Linked DNA regions of Homo sapiens: region 1 is linked to region 2. A link means that fine-mapping ties the variant in region 2 to the expression of a gene that starts in the linked region. Tissue or cell type: prefrontal cortex. Region 2 holds a variant in brackets; the other region holds the start of a gene. All regions are shown on one strand. Distances are from middle to middle.

The links. PIP is the estimated chance that this variant, and not a neighbour inherited with it, causes the effect.
Region 1: FAM174C starts here. The variant in region 2 is fine-mapped to the expression of FAM174C in prefrontal cortex (GTEx, PIP 0.99).

Annotation. Positions count from the first base shown.
Region 1 is chr19:1,274,209-1,276,886 of GRCh38, forward strand. It overlaps FAM174C (family with sequence similarity 174 member C), which reads left to right and starts at 1,322. Exons shown (of 3, transcript NM_017914.4): 1 at 1,322-1,622. The coding sequence starts at 1,342. CIRBP (cold inducible RNA binding protein) reads left to right here. Exons shown (of 6, transcript NM_001300829.2): 6 at 1-602. RefSeq lists silencers at 829-1,053, 952-1,011, 1,022-1,391, 1,722-1,791 and an enhancer at 2,352-2,431.
Region 2 is chr19:2,240,342-2,243,005 of GRCh38, forward strand. The region is part of intron 1 of SF3A2 (splicing factor 3a subunit 2); the gene reads left to right. Among named protein-coding and RNA genes, the nearest start is that of SF3A2, 4.8 kb to the left of the region's middle. RefSeq lists enhancers at 1-128, 1,829-2,123 and a silencer at 2,342-2,539. The variant G/A (reference allele first, on the strand shown) is at 1,202.

The DNA of each region.
Region 1 (2,678 bases), 970 kb before region 2:
GACCTTCCTAGGGGCTGTGGCTGTTTCCGGGGAGGCCGGGAGGGGCAGCTGTGAGCCCTGTGGAGGACGTTGGGAGTAACGCTGCTTTGCTTTGGCAGGTTGAAGGGGCCCGGCCAGGACTCGGGGAAGGGTGGCCTGAGAGCAGCGATGACCTCTGGGGTCACTGTCCCAGGAGGGACTTCACCTGGAACAAGAGCTGGAGGCAGCCGCTTGCCCAGGAGGCTTGTCCCCTGTAAGTGCTTTCGGGAAGAGTGGCATGTGGCGCTGAGCCCTGTCCCGGGCGGCACCTGGGCGTTTCAGTGAGTCCTGCTCTCCCGCACCTATGGCCCCATGGCGGGCGCCTTTCGGTGTGTGTTGGGTGCAGGGCAGCGCCTCCCGGGAGCGCCGGGTCCCCCGCCTGGAGCCCGCGCCTGTTCTCCCTCCCTTCCTCCTCCTTCCAGGAGGCGCTTCGCCAGTGAGGTGCGGGCTCAGGGCCTCGAGTCTCTCCTGGAGCACGGGCTGCGGTGCGCCGGCAGCTTACGGGGCGGCCAGTCCTTGCCCACAACGATGTGGAGCCCTGTGAAAGTCGGATTCGAATAAAGGGCCACGTGTGCACCCAGAAAGCCGAGTCTGTGGTTCAGGGGGGTCTGTCGGCGGAGCGGGGCCACTGGAAGAAAAGCCTGCGGACCTCGGTTCAGCGCACGAGTAGGACCCGACAGGGAAGACTGCAAGGGTCATTGTCCGAGCAGTGACCGCGGGGGGCTCGCCACTGAGGGGGTTCGCAGCGCGGAGACTCCAGTCTCGCGGGATCTGAGGCGCACTCGGCTTCGAGGGAGCGGCGGCCGCGCAGCCGCTGTCAGGCCCCGTCTTGGGCCGAGTCCCGGGTTCCCTGTAGCAGGCTTGGGAGCGGGGCGCCACCTTCCTGGGCCCTGGACGTGGCCGACGCGTTCTCAGTGTCCGTGAGGCCGGGGCAGGAGTGGCGGGGGTCGCCCCGAAGTGGGTGGGAATGAGCGGCCCGAGGTCCTGAAGTCGGGGTCCGCCCCGTCTCCCCGCTGCCAGCCCGATTTCCTCGGAAGCCGCGACCCCCCACGCTGGGCTGGCAGTTCTGGGCTCTGCCGGCTGCGCCTTGCCGGGACTCCCACGGGCGGGCTCCGGGCCTCCGTCCTGATCCCTTGGAGCGGTTCGACGAAGCAAGTTCCGCGGCGGGCGCGCGGGGCACTGTGGGTAGCGCCGGGGCTCACCAGGCGGAGGCGGGGCCCGGCGTCAAGCTCCGCCTCCGCGCCCCATTGGCTGGCATCACCTCCGCGCGCCTGACTGACAGCGCGCATAGGGGCGGGGCGCCGCCACCGCTTCCGCCGGGCCATGGGGCCGCGCGTGCTGCAGCCGCCGCTGCTGCTGCTCCTGCTGGCGCTGCTGCTGGCGGCGCTGCCGTGCGGTGCCGAAGAGGCCTCGCCGCTGCGCCCCGCGCAGGTCACGTTGTCGCCGCCGCCGGCCGTGACGAACGGGAGCCAGCCGGGCGCGCCACACAACAGCACGCACACGCGTCCGCCGGGGGCGTCGGGCTCGGCGCTGACGCGCTCCTTCTACGTGATCCTGGGCTTCTGCGGCCTGACCGCGCTCTACTTCCTGATCCGGGCGTTTAGGTGCGTCAGGCGCACGTGGGCGCCGTCTCTCAGCCTTGGCCAATTAGCGCGCGCCTAGTGCGTCACGTGCCGGGCCGCGGGGTCCTCCCCTCCCTCCCTCCCTCCCTCCCTCTCTCCCTGTTGGAGTGGGCGTGGGCGGTGCTGTGCGGGGTCGTCACGTGGTGTGGGCGGTGCAGGGGCCACGGGACTCACCCGCTCTCCAGCCTGCGCCTGGGGTTGGAGGTGCCCAGCGCGCCGCCTCTTAACTCGGGGGTGACGCTGCCCGTTTCCCAGGTGGGGCCACTGAAGCCGGAGCATGCCGGGCAGGGGTCAGGCCCTGGCGGGGCGAGGGGGCCTCCTTGGCTCCTTGTCGCCGGATGCCCGTCCTCGTTCTCATCTTCCCGCCTGCCGCCAGGCCTTTCCGTGGGGTCCCGATATTTTCCTTTCTGCTTCTACCCACTGAAGCTGGTTCGTCGCCAGGGTCGGCCACGTGCCCGCCTTGGGTGCTCCCACAGCCCGGGAGGTGCAGCTGCGTCCCCAGACCCTCGCGGGGGTCTCCAGCTGTAGGCAGCCCCTGGGCAGGAGGGGCTTCTGCGTGTTCAGGCCACCCCGGCTTCCCTGGCCTGTGGCTCCAGTCTCCTCTGGGCTCCTGACTACCCAGTGTGGCTGCTTCTCCCGGGTGGGAGAGACACAGCGAGGACCTTATCCCTCCCCATCACCACCCTGGCAAAGTCAAGCCGCTTTTTATTTTTTATAAGTTTTTATTGTAGCGATGGGGTCTCGCCATGTTACCCGCGCTGGTCTGAACTCCTGGGCTCAAGTGATCCTTTTTCGTTGGCCTCCCAAAGTGCTGGCATTATAGATGTGAGCACCTGCACTCCGCCATGCTGCTTTTTATGGGCCCTGTGCAGAGCCTCCCCTGTGCTCCACACCTCTTCCTGTGGAAGCACCTGCTGCGCGCTCTCCCCTGCCTGTATGCCGCGCCCTCCCTGCCTCCCGGGCTGCTGGGGCCACCAGGGGCTTGGCCCTGAGACAGGCTTCCATTCTGTTGTCTTTGGCAAAGTCTCACCCCTGTGT
Region 2 (2,664 bases):
GAGGCCCTTTTATACCAGTTCTTCTGGGAATAAAGTTCTGATCTCCTCGAGGGTTGTGGGCGATCCGAGCGTGGGACCTTCCCCGGGGTGCCGCCCCATTTCAGCTGCTGAGGAGGGACAGTGTGGGTGTTCGGTGGCTGCGATGGCTTGGGTTCGGATGGTTTCTGGTTTTCGGATCAGAGCTTTACTTGGTGAGTGGTTGAGTATTGGTCTGGGTTTAGGTTTCAGTGGGCCAGACTCCACAGGTGCTCCCTGTGACAGCTGGAGCTTGTGTCCTGAGCCAGCCACTGGCCGCTGGGGCGTTCTGTCTGGCCAGTTTTAAGAAGTAACTTGGCTTGCCCTAGATGGATTTGAACTCTTGGCTTTGTTAGCATTTTGCCATCTAAGTTCCTTCTCCAAGTCCTCCCAGCCATCGTGTCATTAGAACGTTCTGGAAATGTCACTAAAATGTGCCCGGAAATAAGTGCATCAAGATAGATTGGTGGCTCTTGGTGTGGCCATCTGCACCTGTCCTGGCCCCAGAAGCTGTGCTGCCTCTTCCGCATGGAGGAGCAAAGCGCAGGTCGCTCCTGAGGCTGAGCTCCGCTCCTCCTGGGCCCTGGGTCCTCCGCAGACACGTCCCACCCACTGCTCTTCTCTCTGCCAGAAGCTGCCGGCCATGAGGACGCATGGGTGGGCGCTGTGGAGAGTGCAGGCTTGGGGGTAGAGACCAGTGATGGCTCTGCAGAGCTTAGCCTCAGAGTAGGGGCGTGGTCCAGGAGAGGCCACGACAGGGACAAGCAGGGCGTTCGCATGCTGTTGAATTCCTTCATGACGAAAGGAGCAGGTCGTCCTCCCGGGAGAGGGGAGCGCTTGATGACGCCCCGAGATCTGTGTGTGGGAGTGCCTCTCAGCACCAGGCCCCTCCTGGGTTCTTGGAGTGCATCCGTGAAAGAAGGCCGATTCCCTGCCTTCTCACACGTTCCCCCGAGCGAGGGCTTGGTTCGGTGCTGAGATGCGTGGAGGACTGTGGTTTCTGTGATGTGTGGAGAGGCAAGTGCGGCTGCGGCCTGGTGGGAGGCTGCTTGCTGGGCTCCCCACGCACGTCCCCTGATGTGAGTTTCATGTCACTTGACCAGGAAATGCTTGAATGTCCTCCAGAGAAAAATGAGGCACTTCATGAACCTGTCCGGGCGGCACCCACACAATCCTGCCCGCCTGT[G/A]GGCCGTCCGGAGACAGAACCTCCCAGGCAGCTGTAAGCTGTTGTGGCAGCAGGGACTGTAGGAGTTGGCGTGGCCTGCAGCTGACGGCGCCAGCATGGAGAGGGTGCAGTTCTCCCTGGTCCTGAAGAATGTGTGGCCAAGAAGCCCGAGGCGGGGAGGGTTCCTTGGGGCCAGAGGGTGGCGTTCCCAGCAAAGGACAGTCCTTCTGGTGTCACAGTCTCCTTTTTCACACTGGAATGTTCTTTGTTTTGTGAAGGGATGGCGATGGTCACAGTGGTGGTTTCTCGAAGTTTACGTGACAACATGTAAAAATGGGCATCTCTAGGTGGGCTTTTGTGACATCTGAACTTCTGATGGGGCAGCCGTGATACTGCAGTGAGCTGGGAGGTCCACCTCACCAGTTACCATGCTTGATCATTTTCATAAACTTGCCCAGGGAATAAAAACTGGTTGGGGAGGGCTCCTGGGCCCCCATAGAGTAAGGGGTGACTTCAGGCCCCACCACAAGTCAGCAGTACAGCTGGCCTGTCCCTCAGCATGCCCCTGCACACCTGCGGCCACTGTGGCCTGTCCCTCAGCGTGCCCCTGCACACCTGCCGCCACTGTGGCCTGTCCCTCAGCGTGCCCCTGCACACCTGCGGCCACTGTGCCCTGTCCCTCAGCGTGCCCCTGCACACCTGCAGACACTGTGACACATCACTGCAGACGCAGTAGTTCAGATGACACGGCTGTATCAGCTTCTGGTTCTGGGGTCAGAGTCCAAACAGTCCACAGGGCTCCATTCCTTCTGGAGGCTCTGGGGGACAACTCGTTTCCTGCCTTTCCCAGTGTCCAGAGGCACCTGTGTGCCTTGCCTCGGGGCCCCTTCCTCCCCATTCACAGCCACAGCGCAGCCTCTCTGACTCTCAGCCTCCCGCCTCCTCTCATGAGGTCACCCAGGATCACCTGCCATTTTAAGATCCTCAAGCCCACCTGCACATCCCTTTTCTGCCATGAGGGGACATGTTCACAGGTCCCAGGGATTAGGATGTGGACATCTTTTGGGGGCAGTGATTCACTCAGTCTCATGGGCCCCATCTCTCTGAGCTCACCCAAGACCCTTAAACCAGGGCCCGGGGCCAACATTGAGCAGGCAAGGGAAAGACTACCAGGAGATGAGAGGAGGCTGCCTGGAACTCAGATTTGCACAGAGCCTGAAAGGGCGTGGGAGACCTTGGCAGAGGCCTGCATCAGGAAGAGGATGTTGGGGACTCAGCAGAGCCCCCTGCGCCACAAGCAGATGTGGCAGATCTCCCAGGTGTTACTCAGTGAGGATGCGAAGATCAGTGTCCTCACTGATCTCCGCCTAACAAATTTACATCGAGCCCAAGAGATTAGGTTGGGACAAGTAAGCGTAGCCAACCAGAGAGGGAATTCAGAGGAAGGCGTGAACACTAGGGGCTTGGGCAGTCCGGGATGGCTT